Homo sapiens: one gene and its partners. The protein of the gene in region 1 interacts with the protein of each later gene in a biochemical or structural test. Each region holds a gene or a part of one and is shown on either strand. Other genes may lie near its edges.

The links. Proteins that work in one complex are often made in the same cells at the same time.
Region 2: the proteins of GTF2H3 (region 1) and GTF2E1 form a complex in vitro, tested with the Homo sapiens proteins (one study listed by BioGRID).
Region 3: the proteins of GTF2H3 (region 1) and CDK7 form a complex in vitro, tested with the Homo sapiens proteins (2 studies listed by BioGRID).

The regions. Positions count from the first base shown.
Region 1 is NC_000012.12:123,650,814-123,657,840, forward strand, and holds part of GTF2H3 (general transcription factor IIH subunit 3), read left to right. Parts: intron 1-180; coding exon 181-243; intron 244-1,710; exon of another isoform or gene 1,711-1,718; coding exon 1,719-1,748; intron 1,749-1,893; coding exon 1,894-1,922; intron 1,923-4,110; coding exon 4,111-4,185; intron 4,186-4,957; coding exon 4,958-5,011; intron 5,012-7,027. UniProt on the Homo sapiens protein: Component of the general transcription and DNA repair factor IIH (TFIIH) core complex, which is involved in general and transcription-coupled nucleotide excision repair (NER) of damaged DNA and, when complexed to CAK, in RNA transcription by RNA polymerase II.
Region 2 is NC_000003.12:120,773,729-120,780,755, forward strand, and holds part of GTF2E1 (general transcription factor IIE subunit 1), read left to right. Parts: intron 1-2,694; coding exon 2,695-2,936; intron 2,937-7,027.
Region 3 is NC_000005.10:69,251,871-69,258,897, reverse strand, and holds part of CDK7 (cyclin-dependent kinase 7), read right to left. Parts: intron 6,481-7,027; coding exon 6,447-6,480; intron 4,297-6,446; coding exon 4,229-4,296; intron 3,439-4,228; coding exon 3,370-3,438; intron 856-3,369; coding exon 745-855; intron 1-744. UniProt on the Homo sapiens protein: Serine/threonine kinase involved in cell cycle control and in RNA polymerase II-mediated RNA transcription. Cyclin-dependent kinases (CDKs) are activated by the binding to a cyclin and mediate the progression through the cell cycle.

The DNA.
Region 1 (7,027 bases):
GTTAACCATTACCAAGAACACATTGCTATGTTTTTAAACCTAGTTTGAAAATGTCTTGTTTGATTTCATTTATGAAGAATGCTTTGGTGTGAAAGCATACTTAGTTCAATAAAGCACCCAATGATTTTAGTTCAAGAAAGTACTTAAAAATTCCCTTTTAATGTTTTCTGTTATTTGCAGGTGACATAAAGGGTCAACATACAGAAACTTTGCTGGCAGGATCCCTGGCCAAAGCCCTTTGCTGTATCCTTGGTGTCTGAATCATTTAGAAGGTGTCTTCTGTAATAAACATATCTTAACTTGTGACATTTCTTAGGACCTTGGGTGCCCATTACTGGGACATGTGAGTACTCTGAAGTGGAGGGTAATTTTTTAAAAAATAGTTTACATTGGCTTTGAATTTTTTTTTCTTTTTTTGAGACAGTCTCACTCTGTCGCCCAAGTTGGAGTGCAGTGGCACAATCTCGGCTCACTGCAACCTTCGCCTCCCAGATTCAAGCAGTTCTCTTGCTTCAGCCTCCCAAGTAGCTGGTACAGGCACCCGCCATCACTCCCGGCTAATTTTTTTTGTATTTTTAGTAGAGATGTAGTTTCACCAAGTTAGCCAGGCTGGTCTCTAACTCCTGACTTCAAGTGATCCACCCACCTCGGCCTCTCAAAGTGCTGGGATTACAGGCCACAGTGTGTGGCTGGCTTTGAAATGTTTATTAAGACAAGCTGTAAAGGCCGGGCGTGGTGGCTCATGCCTGTAATCCCAGCACTTTGGGAGGCCGAGGCAGGCGGATCATGAGGTCAGGAAATCAAGACCATCCTGGCTGACACAGTGAAACCCCGTCTCTACTAAAAATACAAAAAAATTAGCTGGGCGTGGTGGCGGACACTTGTAGTCCCAGCTACTAGGGAGGCTGAGGCAGGAGAATAGCGTGAACCTGGGAGGCAGAGCTTGCAGTGAGCTGAAATCGCACCACTGCACTCCAGCCTGGGCGACAAAGCGAGACTACATCTCAAAAAAAAAAAAAAGAAAAAAAGATAAGCTGTAAAAACTGGAAGTGGGGAAGAGTGAGAAAACTCTAGCTTCTCCATTATGTCTTTCTGCCTTCAGGAAACACTGCTTCAGGGTGCTTTCTTGTTTCTTATTTTGATAAATTCAGACTTTTTAAACATTTTCATTTTCTTCTTGACTTGGGAACAGTGTTTGATTTTTAAAAGCCATTTAGGAGCCCTGAAGCTTAATAAATGAGTGGCTCCTTCTCCATAGGTGAACGGGTTGTTTTGCATAGGGCAATACCTTTTCATTTTATCTGTGTGACGTTTTCTCAGTCTTATGGCATTAATTTTTTGGAGGAGGGGCAGTATTGAGTGATTATTTTGTCCTGGAGTTTGATGTGGGTTGCCTGAACATATTTGTAAATCAGTACTTGTCCCAGGATTCAAATTTAGGACATGGTAGGTAAGAATAGGACAGTCAAGTGTTGGGAATTTTAATTTTCTGGGACAGAGATTATATTTTGGTGAGATTACAAAGTCCAGTTGACTGCAGAGTTAGGAACTGAAAACCCCCAATCACTCTTGTGTATTTATCTTGGTGAGTGGAGCATTTCCCTTCTTAGCTAGGTAGATGCTGGGTTTATTTAAAATTGGAGGTTATTTTTCTTTTTACTATAAATATTTATGAAGCAAAATAATATTTTTGTATTCCTTAATGTTAAGAAATTAAGACATTCATAGAATGAACAAGGAAGTTAAAGGTAAGAGCCTACGTTTTCCTATGAGAACTGTAATCCTACTTATTTTACTAGTATTTCTTTACTAGACTGTTTAAAAATTGGTTAGGAAACCATATATGATTAGTAAGATTTAGTTAAATTTTTTTCTGCTTTTTTCTCTTTGTAGACAATCAGGAAATGAAATCAAGGATATTGGTAAGATAAAAAAATCATTACTTTTTTATATGACAACTATAATTAGAAAACATAACGGGAGACCAGGTGTGGTGGCTCACACCTGTTATCCCAGCACTTTGGGAGGCCGAGGTGGGCAGATCACTTGAGGTCAGGAGTTCGGGACCAGCCTGGCCAACATGGTGAAACCCCGTCTCTACTCAAAATACAAAAATTAGCTGGGCGTGGTGGTGCATGCCTATAGTCCCAGCTACTTGGGATCCCGAGGCAGGAGAATCGTTTGAACCTGGGAGGCAGAGGTTGCAGTGAGCTGGAGGTTGCAGTGAGCCGAGATCACACCACTGCACTCTAGCCTGGGTGACAGAGTGAGACTCCGTCTCAAAAAGAAAAAAAAAAGAAAACATAATGGGAAATAAAACGCATTTATAGTAGGAGCAAAAAATGTTAACTATCCAGGATTCATTTAACAAGCAATGTGTAAAACTGATGATAAGGAAAACTAAAATTCTGAGAGCGATAGAAGAATAAGTGGAGAGCCATATTTTGTTCTTGGATGTCAGTTTTCCCAAAATCACACTGTAAATTCAATTTACAATCTCAGTCAGAATATCAGGGAGGTTTTTTTTTTTCCTGGCAGGGTGGGGAGATTTAAAAAAGAAATTCAAGGCTGAGCACGGTGGCTCACTCCTGTAATCCCAACACTTTGGGAGGCCAAGGCGGGTGGATCACGAGGTCAGGAGATCGAAACCAACCTGGCTAACATGGTGAAACCCCGTCTCTAGTACAAATACAAAAAATGTCGTGGGCGCCTGTAGTCCCAGCTACTCGGGAGGCTGAGGCAGGAGAATGGCGTGAACCCAGGAGGCAGAGGTTGCAGTGAGCCGAGATTGCGCCACTGCACTCCAGCCTGGGCAACAGAGCGAGACTCTGTCTCAAAAAAAAAAAAAAGAAGTGCCAAGTAACGAGATATTCATTGTTTGTTGCTTAGCACAAATGAAAAAGCTGGCAGTTCCCAGGGTTGATGGTGATGTTGGGGATTGCTTATTCTCATGGGTTGCTGATAGGAGGATAAATTGGTAAAAATCTTTTCTGGGGTGCATTTTGGTAATCTGTGTCAAAATTAAATGTTCATATACTTTAGTAATCACTGCTTATTTTCCGGAGGTAATTAGAGAGCTGTGCAGATGGTATATGAGGGTATCATCAGGGTATTGTTTAAAACTGAGAACTGGAAACTGCTTAAATAGTGGAAATTTATGAAGTCCGCAAGGAGCATAGTATATATTATAATTCATTGACATTAGAATATTTTTTCCCACATATATTGTGGACTGAAAAAGCAGGTTGCAGAATGCTAAGTAATCATCTTGATACGTGTGAGTGTGTGTATTTTGGATGTGTGTGTATTCTGGATGTGTGTATGTGTGTATATTTTGGATGTGTGTGTGTTTTGGGTGTGTGTATGTATTTGGGGTGTGTTTGTGTGTTTTGGGTGTATTTTGGGTTTGTGTTTGTTTTATGTGTGTATTTGGGGTGTGTATATTTTGGGGGGGTGTATTTTGGGGGGTATGTTTTGGATGTGTATTTTTTGGGGCTGTGTATTTGGTTGTGTGTGTGTGTTGGGTGTGTGTATTTAGTGGTGTGTGTACTTTTGGGGTACGTGTATTTTGGTTGTGTGTGTGTGTATTTTGGGTGTACTTACCTGTGTATTTTGGGTGTATGTCCGTGTGTGTATTTTGTATATGTGTGTGTTTTGGGTGTATGTGTATTTGGGGTGTGTGTATTTGGGGTATGGGTGTATTTTGGGTGTGTATTTTGGAGTGTGTGTATTTTTGGGTGTGTGTGTGTATTTTGGGGGTGCATGTGTGTATTTTGGGTGGGTAGGTGTGTGTATTTTGGGGGCGTGTGTGTATTTTGGGTATATGTGCGTATGTGTTTATTTTGTGTATGTGTGTGTTTGTGTTTTGGGTGTGCATGTATATACCTGCCCATGTAGGTGCTCTCCAGAATGAGTTCATCAAACCGTTACGTGGAGCGGGATTTCGGGGGAAATGTTACTGTCATCTTTATACTTTAGGTATCATTTAACAATGATAAATGGGAAGACAAACTGGAATAATGTTGGTTGTGGTTCGCAGTATATTGTGTGACATTGGTGTGAGAGGACTGGCATGTGCCTGGGTGGAATTAACATGACTGTGATTTTTAGGTGATTAAGGCTGCAGAAGACAGTGCGTTGCAGTATATGAACTTCATGAATGTCATCTTTGCAGCACAGAAACAGGTGAACTGAGAGCCTGCCGTTTAAAGTATTTGTTTCATAACGAAGGAGTCAATTTCATTTTTTGAATGCTCTACTCTGAGGTATTCTGACTACGTAGGCTTATGAATGGGCAAGGAATCCAGAATCTGTATTATGTTCTAGTCTTTTCTCTATTTTGGGTCCTGGACCACTTGAGAATCTGATGCATTCCCAAAACAATATGCACTCAACCACAGTTTTGCATAGAGTTTCATGGTATTCAGGTAACCTTTAGCCCATCCTTGGACCCCATGCCAAGAATCCCTGGTTTGACAGTTTGCTGTATAAACCTTGCATCAGTTTCTTTATCTTGTTGCTGTGGCGAAGCTGTAAAAATTCAGTATTTTTACTTTGCAAAGAGCTGAAATGTTCAGATGAAGTATAATACATTTTCTTCTTTGGTGTGTTTATGAAGAAAGAAAACCTCCTTAAAATTTCAGTTTTAATGTAAAATGCTGCTATAGCCATGCATAATGTTCTCTGTTGTGGAGTGGCAGCATGATGTAGTGAAAAGAGCCTGGACTTTGGAGACATGCCGAGTGGGGTGACAGCTTTCTCACCCGCTGGCTCTGTGACCACAGCCCAGCCATGTCCTGGGTGCTTCAGCTGCCAAATGCAAATATCTGCCGTGCAGAGTCACGTTGCATATTGAGTGAGCTATTTTAAGCATAGAGTATGGCATGTAGTAGGTTCTCAGTATAGGGTAATCATTATTGTTATTATTCCTGTAATATTTTCAAAATGTTTCTTTTAGAATATTTTGATTGATGCCTGTGTTTTAGACTCCGACTCAGGGCTCCTCCAACAGGTATGTTTTAAAACCATGCTTTGTGTCGGTGGTTATGACAATTAGTGATTTTTATATTGATTACAATTTAAAATGAAAGCTTTGGGTATATTGGGTTAAATAAAATATGTTATTCAGCCTAATTTTATCTATGTCTTTCCCCCTTACGTATGGAGCTACTGGAAAATTTTAAATTACATATTGCTTGCGTTATATTTCCGTTGGGCAGCACTAAAAGACAAAAACTGAATTTTACTTTAACCCGAAAGGGAAACAAAACCCTAAAGTAAGTCTGAAGAAATTACTGAGTTTTTGTTAGATGTTTTTTGGCCACAAATGTTGTTTCCTAAAGGATCAGTTACAAGCACAAAACTATGACAAACCCTGAATTTAGGTTACTGCTGGGGATGAAGGATGGGGAGAGCGAGGTCCAATGGGAAAATTTACATGCTTCAAAGGCTCTGAGATTGTACTGTTTCTTCAGCTTGATCGTAGGTATATGATGTTCATTTTATTATTTAAACCATACTTACACATTATGTATACAGACTCTTGTACATATTATATTTCAGTAGTAAAAATTCAAAAAGTTTGAATTCATTTTTTAGCAACACATTTCAGTCTACACATTGTCTATTAACTCCAAGACGATCTTGTCTCTGCCATGAATTCACATACCAGCTCTACCTCCTCAGCCCTCACATTCATTTTTCTAGTCCAGTCCCAGACTCTCCTGAGTTCCAGACTTGCAGAATCAGCCGTGTACGTAGTACCTCCTCTTGGACGTCTGGCAGGCATCTTCAGTGTCATGTGTCAAAAGCAGAGAGCTCTTGGTTTGTCCTCTCAGCCTCTTCCTGCTCCACTGGTAGCCCCATCTCCCTAAGTGGCAGTGCAGTTCACTCAGCAACTCAAGCAAAAACCTGACTCTTCCTTGTCTCTTCTCTTCCCTCCTTTCATAACCATGAGCAAATCCTGTTGATTCTGCCTTTAAAATATATCCTGGCTGAGCTCAGTGGCTCATGCCTATAATCTCAGCACTTGGGAGGCTCAGGCGGGTGGATGGCTTGAGCTCAGAAGTTTAAGACCAGCCTGGGCAACATGGCGAGACACCATCTCTATAAACAATACAAAAAAATTAGCCTATCATGGTGGTGCACGCCTGTAGTCTCAGCTGTTCGGGAGGTGGAGGCAGGAGGATTGCTTGAGCCAGGAGTTCGAAGCTGCAGTCAGCTACGATCATGCCACTGCACTCCAGGGAAACCCTGTCTCCCTCTTAAGAAAAAAAAATGTGAAAGTTGGTTCTCAGAACAGCTGTCAGAATGAAGCTTTCAAAATACAAGATTGGTGCAAAAGTAATTGTGGTTTTTGCCTTTTTTTTTTTTAACAGTAAACACTGCAATTACTTTTGCACCAACCTAATATAAATTAGAACCTGTTGCTCACTTGCTTAAAACCCTCCCATAGCCTAGCATCATACGTTGACTAAAACCCAGAGTCAGGGCCTGCCAGGGCCTTCCAGATGCTGCTTGCTGAGGCTCCTGGGAACCTTTTGCCCCGCATCTTCCACACTCTCCCTCTTCAGTCCGGCCCCACCGCCCCCTTGCTATTGCCTGAAACAGGCCTGCTTCGGCCAGAGGGGCGCTGCACTTTCTGTTCTCTCTGCTCGCAAGCTCTTCCCGCAGGTGTTTGCATGGCCTACTCCCTGCCTGCCTTCACGTCTCTACTTCTGTGCCACCTCCTCAGAGAAGCCTTCCCTGACCACCATTGTTAGTGTTACTCCCTCTCCCCTTAGCCTACTTTATTTTTCTTCATAGAAATGATCATAACCTATAACATTATTTTTGCATTTACTTACCTGATTTACTCTCTGCCTTCTCCACTAGAACCTTAACTTCATGAGGATGGACACTGTGATGTTTACTGCTGTAACCCTGCACAGTGCTCTAAAACAGTTGTTAAATGTGTAAATGAATCTAACGGACCAACTGAACCAGGACTGTACTATCAGAGGAGCCTCAGGGTCCTAGGATCGGAGCT
Region 2 (7,027 bases), on another chromosome or scaffold:
TTTATTAAATAATATAAAAAGATTCAAACATGAATTGTCATTTTTGTCATCTTCAATTAAAATTGTTCCAAATTTTAAAATTTGTTTGACTTATGGTCAAATGTCTGCTGCCTCAAACTAGAATAAAACCCATCTTGAATTTCTATGACAGAATACTAAAAACAAAAGACTTTTTAAAAGTACTCTTGTGTTAACATTTATTTTAATTCTGTTCTTTTCTCTCTAGCTTTCTTGTTTTTCTCAAAGTACTCCTCATACCTTCATAAGACAGTCTTTGTAGTCAATGCTAAAGATAGAGAATAGAGAAAAACTCTGTGTTCAGGATTATATATAAAGAGAAGCAGTAACCTCAGAGTGAGTGAGTCATTTAAGTCTGAATCAAGGAAAGATAAGGATGTGGTTGGCCAGATCAGAGAAATATGCCTATTCTGTCTCTCCCAGGTGGGTTTAGCTAACTCAGGGAGAAACATTTTGGGGTGGCAGATATATAGAGCAGGCTCAGCACATCAAGATGGGGATGTTGGCTGAGGATAGAAGAGGCATTGAAAGGAGTCAGAGAGACAAATGGGTGTGAGAGGAGAGGCCAGAATGTAGAATAAGCACAGAAACATAAAAAACCAGATCAGACCAAGAGAAAAGAGAAAGTAAAGTGAATGCTGAAGAAGAGAAAAGTTCGAAAAGCCAACCTATACAAAGTAAGCAGCATCATATTACAGTGAAGGCAGCCACATAGCCTTTAAAAGACCACACAGAACAGATAGAAGATAGAGAATGACTAGGGACAGTTAATGGTTAAATTGAGATGAACAAGAAATGATACACAAAGTAACATCAATGAATGCAGAAAGAAATAGCAGAGAGAAACCAGTTATGTGCAATTGTAGCATAAGACTTCAGAATATAGCAAAAAAAAAAAAAAAATAGATGGATTGGATATATTTACAGAGAGATGCCTCATAGGTCTAGACTTAGAGTGGAGAGCAAATAACTGGTAGAAAGTAGGAGCAGTGAGGAGGCAAAAGAAGTGATTGAGACATGGAACAGGTAGAACAGGCACCGGGAAGAAAAAGGCTGTGGGAGAAAGTGGTTTACAAAGTAGCCCTGGGCACAGAGGTGGAATAATGAAAAGTATGCAAACGCAGTACCTGGAAGGCATGGATTAAATGACTGGATCAGTGTGGACTGGGCAACTGGAGATAACATTATTTTTTTGTTGCACAAGTAGCATGGCCCTATAGATATCCAGAGGCAGGACAGGATAGGTGGGATGAGCTAAGCCCAAGTTTACCTCCAGAGGATGGTCAGAAACACAGTGTAATTTAGGGAAAGATGTGATGGGCTAATCAGATACACGGACACAGACCTCAGCTAAGTATGAGTTAGAAAACCCCAGTAGATAAGAAGTGGACCCAGAACAAGTGAAGAGTAAGGGAGTAAGCAGAGATGAAGTAAGACAAAAGTGAAGGCAAAATAGTGAATGGCTTAGGAGGAAAGACTAATGAAGTATTTATTAGATTCAGAATGAGTCGGGGCTCCACACAGGAGATAATTCAGGATCCATGGAAAAGAGTGAGAAAAACGGACGAAAAATAAAGGAGAAACGTGAGACCAGGTCAGTCATGGACACTGAAAGAAACACCCAAAAGGTTTGGAGTGAGCAGGCAGTTCAAGAAACATGAAGATGGTTACAGGATAAAAAATAGCTGGACAGAGCGGGAGGTGGAGAAGCATACGTAGAAGTTGAAGTGGAAAGCATCAGTAGCAGGCAGAGAAAGGCATGAGCTCAGACAGAGAATCAGGCATATTCGAAAGAATTTGGAACAGATTGAGAGTGAAACAGGCAGATAAAATGGGGAACCATCAGAAATACTGAAAACTTGGCCTAACACAGAGGTTGGGGGGAACTTAAGTGACTAGAAGATAAGGAAATGATCAGACATGGAACAGGCTAACAGACAAAGAAGATCGTGGGTGGTAAAAGTAAAAAGCAAAATAAAATAGACTGAGAAAAACAGACCATTGTTACTGCAGAGTAGAATCAGTGGTTGGAGATGGATACAGAGTATCAGCATAGATGTGGAGATAGAAACATACAACTACATAGAAAAGCAGCTAGTTTGTGCAGAGGGTTATACCTTACTGCATGAGTGGTGGGAGAAGAACGTTGGTTGAGGTCAGGCTTTGTAGAATAGTTTTCTAGCTTTTTCCATGATCAGCACACAAAAGAAAGGAAAAAGCACACAGAACCACTTTGAATTGTTCTGGGTTGAGCTGAGATAACATTTTTAAAAATACAATGTGTTTTGTTTTTGTTTTTTAAACAAAATACTGGGAGAGATTTTTGTCAGACTAGTGGCTTTAAGTAGATGATGTCACCATATCACTTTCTCCTTCTCCAAGTATTAATAGATTTATTGAAACATCTTAAATCTATAAAACCTCAGTCATTTATATACATCAGAGGATCCCATGTTTGAGGAACTTAAATATAAATATGATGTGTTTTTCTAACGCATACAACTTTTACCCTGAGGTATAGAAGCACTTTCTTGGAATTGTTAAAGCATGTGTGCATGATTGCTAGGTAGCATTTACATGTAGTATTTCAGTAATTGCCTCCCTAGCTGCCCTTCTTTTCCAACACCAAGACATTAATTTTTCTTCTTCCTGTACTCCTCTATTCTTTTTATATAGCAAGGACCATGCAGCAACTACTGCTGGAGCTGCTAGCCTAGCAGGTGGGCACCACCGGGAAGCATGGGCCACCAAAGGTCCTTCCTATGAAGACTTATACACTCAGAATGTTGTCATTAACATGGATGACCAAGAAGATCTTCATCGAGCCTCACTGGAAGGGAAATCTGCCAAAGAGAGGCCTATTTGGTTGAGAGAAAGCACTGTCCAAGGGGCATATGGTTCTGAAGATATGAAAGAAGGTAAGAGTAGAAGTCAGTAAAATGGATGTGTCTTAGGTTCTGTAGAACATGAACTTGGCTTAGTGGGAAACTGCCTGGGCAATTCTGGATCTGTTCTACAGAACAATTAATTGCATTATATTAGGAAGTAAGAAATTGAACAATAAGATAAAAACCAACTAGTATACTTCCATTGCCCTTCAACTTAGTGAAAATAACAAATAGCCTTTTAAATTTTCATTTTTAGATTTGAAAAATTGTCATCTTTTTATCTTAATTTCTTGGAAAAATGCTATCTGTTGTTTTCAAGGTAGCCATACTCACCTTTCCTTTAATCTTATATTACCCTGACTTATATGCATTTAATTTTTCTGAATTGGGAGCCAAAACTATACGCTACCCCAAACTTTATGTTTTCTCTTCATAAATACCAAGGAGTGTATGCTACCTGAAATAGATACAAAGAGACCACATGAATAAAGGATTGAGCATTCTCACAGTCCAAGACGGTTAGCAGAACTTTGTTCTAGAGGATTTTGGAAATTTCTGAGGCATAAAGGGTTAAGAATTGCATACTAATCTTCGGAAGTTAGAGAACTGCAAGATTTTACTTTCTAAGTTTTAGTCTAAGTTACTGCATTCAAGACTTTGAGTGATGATGGTTTAGGAGTATGTAGAAAATGGGAGGCAAAAATGGATGACGATGACTCAAGCTGGAAAGTAGAGAGGAAGGGTGTCTCTATTTCTTGCTGAATTTTATCAGTGTAACAATCAATGTGCCGCTACTCCCAAGTTAATATATCATTACTAACATATCACGTGAGTTTGGTGATATGTTAGTGCCAAAGAATAATCAGTAGCTGAAAACCACTTGTTTTTTGGCGTTTCTCCTAGCCTCTTTTCCCTTCATAATTAGCATTTAGTATATGTATATACTAGAAATTGTGAAGGTAACGTGGAGTTTGGTAGTGATGGTAAAGCAGCTAATACCTCTACTGTGATTCTCTTTGATATATTAATTTTAATAAGAAAAGGTTTTCCAAGGCAACCATACTTTACCCTCCTTCTTCCTCACTGATTAGCCTGCCATGTTAGTTTTTTTGACGGAGTCTCGCTCTGTTGCCTAGGTTGGAGTACAGTGGTGCGATCTTGGCTCACTGAAACCTCTGCTTTCCGTGTTCAAGTGATTCTCTTGCCTCAGCCTCCTGAGTAGCTGGAATTGGGCGCAAGCCACCATGGCCAGCTAATTTTTGTATTTTTAGTAGAGACGGGGTTTTGCCATGTTGTCCAGGCTGGTCTCAAACTCCTGACCTCAAGTGATCTGCCTGCCTCGGCCTCCCAAAGTGCTGGGATTACAGGCATGAGCCACTGTGCCCAGCCTGTTGTGTTATTTAGATTGAAGTTGTTTTAGATTATACAGTAGTTAGGCTATACTACTACTTAATAAATTTGTTTTCCCCAACTTGGCTTCTTGCCTGTTCTTAAAGCAGCCTTCTTTTCTTTGAACTTAGGAAGAAAACTGAATAAAATAAAATTATTATTAACCAACATTATATATTAAGCTCATAAGTTTAACATTCTAGTTTACAGTTCCTAAAATGATAGAATATGAATCATATGGGCCTTAAATAAGTTATCTGGTCTACTTAAGTTTTGTAAATATTTATTTCTGCATAAAATAGGATAGTATGTTGTCATGTCTGAATTTATCCTAAGTTTCTTGATAGTAGAGCAGACTCTATCCAGTGAATGTATGAAGTGGGTCTTAACACTTGATTTTCCTCAAACTTCAAGTCATGTTGATATCTTTCACAATTGTATCGACTTCAATCATGTTCTCATTACTATACTGAAGAAAGTTCTAATTCCTTTTGATTCTGTTTTCCTTAAACAGTTCTCTTTTCCACTGCTGCCACCTCCTACAGTTTTTGTTTATTTTTGTCTTTTTCTGGACCATCTCTAATTGTAATATACTTTACTTGAGACATAGTGACCAGAATGATACATGTTGTTCATGCATGGATTCACCATTGATTTGAGTTTTATTTCCAGTATCTTTCTGGTTTTTACTTGAGATTTTGTTTGTTGCTTTGGTTCTGGAAGCATGTTAAGACCAAAAACTTCTAGAAACACGTAGAGGTACTTTTTAGGTTCTTCTGTGCCTTGAATCCAATAGCTTGGATCATATCTTTCAGTATATTTTAGATTATTTTTCTGCAGGCTGATTTTCTTGCACTTGCTGAAATAGAAATAGATCTGCTACTTTTCTGCCCACGTATACAACCTTCAGCTCTTCCTATATTTTTTTGCTGCAACTTGGCCTTTCAGTACCCACAATTGCTTAGCATCAATTCCGTGAATATAGTTTCCCAGTATACATCTTCTTTGTAATTTATAACTCTGTTGAAAAAGGCTGTTCCTAGAACCACTGTTTCTACTTTACCATCCAGAAATTTGCTCATTTATCCTTGTTTTTTGTTTTCTGTCTTCATCTGTAACAGAATAATTCTTTTTTCTCCAAACCTCTCAAGACCCTTGTCAGAAATCTGTTACGTGTGACTTAATTTAGTTTACAAAACTAATTTTCTTTTTCCCTAATTTAATACTTAAACATTAATCAAAATACTGTGTTGATATTATTAAACTATTTGGAACATTCTTTTAGAAGCAATTATTGTCTTAAAGGCTTGCATGCATTCCTTACCTTCTTTTCTTTCTGTTGTAGTGCTGCATTGGCAGTAAGCTCTAAGGAGGAGGTTCAGCCTTTGACAATATTTTGAAGTAGTTAAGTTTGATTTTAACTCTCATTTTGACAGTCATGTTATCAAAAGCCTCTTTTCTCTGACCTAAACTTTTAACTTGTCTGCTTCTGTTTCCCTTTCTCTCTCTTATCTGCTCAGTATCTCATTTTAGGAGTTCTGTGCCTTCTAAAATGTCCAGGGATTTAGCTAATTCATTTTAATGTGTTAATGAGAAGATGCTTTCACTTTATCCATAGTCAGAATTGACCATTTCTGAGTCTTCTCTTGATGACGATGATGATAGATAACACTATTCTAAGTGCCAGGCCCATTCTAGACACTTCACAGACATTCACTTAATCCCCACAGTAATCTAGTGAAGTAAATACTATTTTCCCCCTTTCTGTACTTGAGAAAATTGAAGCGGAGAGATGAAATAACTTGGCCAGAATCATACAGCTAAATAGTGTTAGGATTTGAATCAGGGAGTCAGGTTCCAAACAATACTTTTAATCTTTTTATGTATTTTAAATGGCAGTATGTTTGGTAGTAGTATCAGAATGCAGAATGCAGATGGTTTTCTTAAATATTTCATCTGCAGTATATCAGGTAAGATATGTACACAAAATGATAGGAGGTGTGTGGTGAGAGAAGCTTCATTCCTAAAATTAGATTCTTTTTTTATAAAGAGTTTTAAGTATGCTTAGTTTGCTTCATGAAAATAAAACTCACATTTATTCACTCATTTGTCAGATGTTTATTCAGTGCCTAACAGAGTGGCAGGTACTATTTAGGTAAATGGGATATATCCATGAATAAACAAGATAAATATCTGTTGTGGTAGAACCTACATCCTTGGAAAGGGGGTGACAAAGACAATAGATGTAAGTTATTCATTATGTTAGGAAATAAGTGCTATGGGGGAAAAATAGAGCATTGGGAATGTAGGGATAGGATACATTTAAAAGGTAACATTTGAATAAAGACATGAAAGATGGAAGGGAGTTAGCTGTGTGAGTACCTAAAGGAAAAATATTCCAGGCAGAGGGAACAGGTAATGCAAAGGCCCTGAGGTAGGAGTGTGTCTGATATGTACAAGGAATACCATGGAGGCTACTGTGGCTAGACAAGAATGAGCAGGGGAAAGAAGTAAGAGGTAGATGATCAGGAAGGATTCCAGATGATGTGGGACCCTATAGGCCATTGCAAAGCTTTTGGCTTTTACCTTGAGTGAGATAAAGAGCCATGTTTTGATTTTCTGTTATGCCAGCTACTCTAGTCGATTCTTCATAGACATTATCTTATATGTTTTTATTCAGAACCTTAGAAAGTAGATGCTTTTATCACCTCATTTTACAGAAAAAGGTATTG
Region 3 (7,027 bases), on another chromosome or scaffold:
CACTATATTGCCCAGGCTGGTCTAGAACTCCTGGGCTCGAGATATCTACTTGCCTCAGCCTCCCAAAGTGCTGGCAACACAAAAGTGAGCCACCATGCCTGGGTCAAAACCTATGTTTTAATACTCTGTCCATTATCAGCAGCCAACCTTGAAAAAAAATATAACCATGGTCAGGTCACTTAGCAACTTAGCTCTTCATCTATTAAAAAATGAGGAGGCCGGGCGCAATGGCTCACGCCTGTAATCCCAGCACTTTGGGAGGCCAAGATGGGCAGATCACGAGGCCAGGAGATCGAGACCATTCTGGCTAACACGGTGAAACCCCGTCTCTACTAAAAAAATACAAAAAATTAGCTGGGCGTGGTGGCGGGCACCTGTGGTCCCAGCTACTCGGGAGGCTGAGGCAGGAGAATGGCATGAAACCAGGAGACGGAGCTTGCAGTGAGCAAGAGATCGCGCCACTGCACTCCAGCCTGGGTGACAGAGCAAGATTCCATCTCAAAAAAAAAAAAAAAAAAAAATGAGGGACTGGATCTCTTCCAGTTCTAAATTTCACAAAGTAATATGGAGTCCTTACAGCACCAACTGCTGGAACAAGTGAAGGGAATAATATATAGCAAAAAGATGGGATAAAACAGTCAGCTATAAATTCATTGTTAAACAATTTACATATTCAGACCACTATGTACCAAATTGGCTATATAAAACTTGACTAGTATAAAGAAGCAATATTAAAAACCTTACCCTATGTAGGATCCAATGTTGATGTAAATATTCTAATCCTTGAAGAGTCATCAACATGTAGGCTTTGATGTGTGATGGTGTCAGCACAAGACTATTATCCTTTATTATAACCTGTAAAGCAAGTATACAATATACAGGTACCCTTTATTATTTCAAATAAACTCTACCACATAAAACAATTTACAGACTTAAAATGTAAGTATCAATACAGGAGACTCTCAAAAGAGGTTATCTAAGTTTCCTCAGGAAGCCCTGTCAAAATCTCCAGAGTTAGATGGGTAGGGAGAGCATTTCTGGTTTGAAAAGAAAGCAGTGCTTTGTCCTCTACTGCTTTCGCATGAAAGTAGCAAACACCTGTTGTTTCTGCTTGCATCTTCTGACAATAGCAGTTAGTGTTCCTTTGGGAAGCCATCTCTTCTCAGCTTAGTCCACATGGTTAAGGTAGGACTGAGTCAACCTAAGGCCTCCAGAGGTAGGCACATGACCCAGGCATCCCCATTATCACACTGCAGTCTCCTGGCCAAGTGATTGGTTCAGGGATACAAGACAAGTCAATCAACCAGGCCAAGTACTTGTGCTAGAATCAAAGAAAAGAAAGCACTTTCGTTCCTCAGGTATTATTAAACTCTACAAACATATACCTAGAAGCATCTGGAACACCATATTGAGAACTGTACACATGAAGAATGCAACAGAGAAGAAAATGGAGCTTAGTTAAAGCGTAAGACTGAGTTTTGATGGCATTATTTATGAGCTGTGCCTAATGTCAGTTTATTCTAGATTTATCAGTTAGGAACTAAAAGTTCCCCTTTTCTTTTTTTAAAATCAGATTTAAGGTAAAGCATACCCTTTTTAGTGTATAGTTCCATGAGTTTTGACAAATGCATCCAGTCATGTAACCACCACTATAATCAAAGCATAGTTCCGTAACCTCCCCAAATTCCCTGAGGCCCCTCTGTACTTACTCCTTTCCTTTACCCCAAAGCCCCCATAACCGCTGATCTGGTTTCTGGTTCCTTTCATTTTGCCTTTTCCAGAATATCATATAAATGAAATGGTTCAATACATAGTCTTTTTAGCCTGGCTTCTTTCACTTAGTATAATGCATTTCAGATTCATCTATGTTGCTGCATTTATCAATAGTGTGTTTCTATTCCTGAGTAGTATTTCAGTTTGTTTGTACAGTTAGAATGAGGGATGTTTGGATTGTTCCAGTTTTGATAATTATTAATAAAGCCAAACATCTGTACCAACTGAATTCTGGCATACGTTTTTGTTTCTTTTTTTTTTCTTTTTTCGAGATGGGAATCTCACTCTGTCACCCAGGATGGAGTGCAATGGTGCAATCCATAGCCTAGTGGTGAGTCCATAGCCTATTATGATAGGTCCTTCCAGGATCAATACCATTAGTATTGTGATCTATAACAGCATCACTAATATTGTGATCGATACCACTAATCAATAATCTTGTGATCTAGCAATACCACTGCTAGGTATTTATCTAAAAGAAAGAGGCCGGGCATGGTGGCTCACGCTTATAATCCCAGCACTTTGGGAGGCTCAGGCAGGTAGATCGCCAGAGGTCAAGAGTTTGAAACCATCCCGTCCAACATAGTGAAACCCCATCTCTATTTTAGCTGGGCATGGTGATGGGCGCTTGTAATCCCAGCTACTCAGGAGGCTGAGGCACAAGAATTGCTTGAACCTGGGAGGCAGAGGTTGCAGTGAGTTGAGATCGCGCCACTGTACTCCAGCACGGGTAACAAAGCAAGACTCTGTCTCAAAAAAACAAAACAAAAACAAAAACAAACAAAAAAACTTGGCTTTCAAAAGAATGACATTACTCTGATTATATGGAAATAAGTTTCTTTATTTTTTAATATAATTTGTAAAGCTGAGACAGGATCTATGGGGTCCAGGCTGGTCTTGAACTCCTGGGCTTAAGCAATCCTCTTGCCTTGGCCTCTCAAAGTGCTGAGATTACAGGCGTGAGTCACTGCACTGGCCAGAAATAAATTTTAAATTCTTATAGGTTGCTAGGCATGGTGACTCATGCCTGTAATCCTAGCACTTTGGGAGGCTGAGGCAGGCAGATCACTTGAGGTCAGGAGTTCAAGACCAGCCTGGCCAACATGGTGACACCCCGTCTCTACTTAAAATATAAAATTTAGCCGGGCGTGGTGGCACCTGTAATCCCAGCTACTTGGGAGGCTGAAGTGAGAGAATCACTGGAACCCAGGAGGTGATGGCTGCAGAGAGCCGAGATCACGCCATTGCACTCCAGGCTGGGTGAACAGACTGAGACTCCATCACAAAAAAAAAAAAAAGCAAACAAATCTTATAGGTCTAATGCTCATTTCTCCAAAAATGACGTCAACTAGCTATGGGAACTTAGAAGGCAGAAATGCCAATGAAATCCAAATCTTTGTATGTAACACTGGGGATATCACTAAATGATTAGAAGAAAATAACTAGAGATCCTTTTGCCTCAGAGTACATCCAAATTTCAACAAAATTAAGCTTTTTTTCTTTTACTACCAGTATCTTCTTGGGTAGAAAACAAATATTTAGGTTCTTGTTTGATAAACTGGGACAAAGGAATTTCTCCAGGAATCTTAATCTTACCTCTAGATCAGTTTCCATAAAATCAAAGACAAGGCTAATATTAGATTTATGTCCAAAAGCATCAAGGAGCTGCAAAGTTAAAAAATTAAAATGTGATTCACTATTTAATACCTGACAGTATCATAGCAACTGAGGCAATTTTTAAAAATTTAAAAAGCATTTAAACTGTTGGTAATTCCCTATAAAGCTTAAATCATTTGATTAAATTTGACATTTGTCCTTTTTTGGACAGTACTAAAGGAATTAGTATTTTGAAGCATAAAAATATTAAATTTTACTTAAAAAAATACCCAACCTCTTTCCCCAAATATTTGGAGTTAGAATTAAGAAATTAACCAATGAAAACCTCATTCCAGTCTCCAATTCAAAAGAAAAGTCCCAAATGTGATTCTTAAGAAATCCTCTAAATAACAGCAGCTATCATTGAATGAATGAATACATTTTCTATGGTAGGCACTATTCCAGATACTTTACATCTATTCAATTGGCTAGTCTCACAACTTCCCTATGAGGCAGGGACTCTGGGGAGTTGTGAGTGAACACACTCAAGGTCTCACACAGGCAGAAAGAAAGGTTTTGAATTCAGGTTGACACTCTCAGCCACTACATGCTAGAGCTCCCTAGACTTCAAAATTATTTCCGACAAAATTAGCCTACATGTCAATATTTCATTTATTTAATCAGTGGTATAGTTTTGAAGACAATGCCTACCAAAACAACTGGGATAGAAAATGTATTTCCTTTAAGCTTCTACAAGGCTCATCCAGAACAAGTCATCTTGCTGAGCCTTTAATCAACATCCATTATATTAAGAAAAGGCAGAGTCCCAAATCCCAGTAACAGTTTTGATCATACTCACACCAATTATATTTGGATGACTTAGCTCCTGTAATAATTTTATCTCTCTTAAGGCGGTTCTATTTATACCTATATAAAAAGGCAAAGCAAAAAGTGAATAATTCTGAAATCTCAAACCTTACAAACACTTCTTTTTTTTTTTTTTTTTTGAGATGGAGTCTCGCTCTGTCGCCCAGGCTAGAGTGTAGTGGCGTGATCTCGGCTCACTGCAACCTCTGCTTCCCGGGTTCAAGCAATTCTCCTGCCTCAGCCTCCAGAGTAGCAGGGATTACAGGCACGCGCCACCACGCCCGGCTAATTTTTGTATTTTTAGTAAAGGCGGGGTTTCACCATGTTCATCAGGCTGGTCTCCAACTCCTGACCTCGTGATCCACCCGCTTTGGCCTCCTGAAGTGCTGGGATTACAGGCGTGAGCCACCACACCCAGCCACAAACACATATTTTTAAAGAAAGGTTAGTAATCTCAGAAAATAGTGAACATTACCCACAAAAATAAGGGCTACTTTGACAATTTTTATGTCAAATCTGTTGTTCTTTTACATTGCTTTATTTTTATTTATTTATTTTTTTTGAGATGGGGTTTCACCCTGTCAGCCAGGTTGGAGTGCAGTGGCATGATCTCGGCTCACAGCAGCCTCCACCTCCCAGACTCAAGTAATTTTCCCACCTCAGCCTCCCGAGTAGCTGGGACCACAGGTGTGCACCTCCACGCCTGGCTAATTTTTTGTATTTTCGTTAGAGATGGGGTTTTGCCATATTGGCCAGGCTGGTTTCGAACTCCTGAGCTCAGGCGATCTACCCACCTCACCCTCCCAAAGTGCTGGGATTACAGGCGTAAGCCATGGCACCAGGCCAATATTGCTTTACTTTTAAAATAGCTTAACAAAGACTACGACAAATGGTGAAAAATATTTCACCTTATCTATACCAGGATCTGAACACCACTACTAGACTAACAACATATATAAGTGTGCAGCATATAGGTGATAAGCTTCCCTACTCTTGCCCTACAAATATTAGTGGCATATTGTTTGTGCTAAAAGCAAACTAGTGATAAGATAGTATATTTTCCAATACAAATGACAGATTTCAAAATTAAAAATTAGATACAGGCCGGGCGCGGTGGCTCGTAATCCCAGCACTTTGGGAGGCCTAGGTGGGCAGATCACTTGAGGCCAGGAGATCGAGACCAGCCTGGCCAAGGTGGCAAAACCCCATCTCTACTAAAAATACAAAAAATTGGCTGGGCATGGTGGTGTGCACCTGTAATCCTAGCTACTCAGGAAGCTGAGGCAGGAGAATCGCTTGAACCCGGGAGGTAGAGGTTGCAGTGAGCCGAGATTGCGATACTGCACTCCAGCCTGGGCAACAGAGCATGACTCTGTCTCAAAAAAAATAAACAAAATAAAAATAAGATATAGTATTGGCACTTACACAGACAATGGGTCTCTTTTGTAAGAGCTATTTTATGATGAATCCTAATAAATAAGACTTTGGAAGAAAGTTTAATGAAATAATTTCCTCATGTATCTATTCCATAGTAAGCTTTATGTACTTTCATGAAAATGTATCCTGAATTTTCAAAGTAATTAGAAACTCAGAAACAGAAAAAACAATGGCTTGTAACACCTAAAACAGTAATGAAGACAGAAAGACAAACTAATTAAGCTTGCTGCCTTCCATTTATGTGGGTGATTTGGAATGTTTCTCTGAATATCCAGTAAGTAAAAATCACCAAATACTCCTTCTCTATGCTGAGTCTATCTTTACTCTTCGGGGACCCTGCAGTAACTCTATCCAGAACCATTACTAACTTATTAATTCATACTTTGCTCGTTTCTTCAGTGAGAATGAAAACTTTATGCTGGGCATGGTGGCTCAAGCCTGTAATCCCAGCACTTTGGGAGGCCGAGGTGGGAGGATAGCTTGAGGCCAGGAGTTTGAGAGAAGCCTGAGCAACACAGCCAGACCTCATCTCTACAAAAAATAAAACATTAACCACAAGTGGTGGCACATGTTTACAGCCCTAGCTACTCAAGAGGCTGAGGTGGGAGAACTGCTTGAGTACCTAAGTTTGAGGCTGCAGTGAGCTACGATTGTGTCTCAGTACTCCAGCCTGGGTGACAGAGCAAGACCCTGTCTTTTTAAAAAAAAAAAAAAAAAAAAAAAAAAAAAAGGAGAAAACTTTTCCTATCTGTCAGATTACATGAAATACTTACCATCTTTAGCTTCTGATCTATGTCCAAGTTTGATCTGGTAGAAACGGAAAAAAACCCAAATATATTAAAAATGTGTTAAATTATTTAGAATCAATGAATAATGTGTAAATACTTCAAATACTTCGCCACAGAAAAAAAAACAATTAGCAACCAATATGTACCTACTAGGCAAAAAGAGAGTAGGAATCATGATCAGAAAGATAAAATTAACAATATAAGAGAGAATCAAATACCTACCCTTGTCCCTTAAGTTTCTGAACTACACATTCAAATAATAAAATTAAGAAAAATCTATTTTACCTTTTCAAGGTTCAATGTGGACCAAATAACTAAGGGTACCCTGATTAAAAATAAATACGTAACTTCAAATTAGGCTACTTGGGAGGAAAGATACAGAAAATAACATGCTGTAGAGTTGGTAATAAGCCCAATAATATGCTCTTAGACACCACATTTTTCAAAAAGCAAAATTACAAATTGTGATGGTTAAAATGTTGTTACTCTGAATAAACATAACAAATTACATTAACAGGTTTAGTCTTACACAAAATAAATTACCTGGGTAAAGAACATTCTCTCAC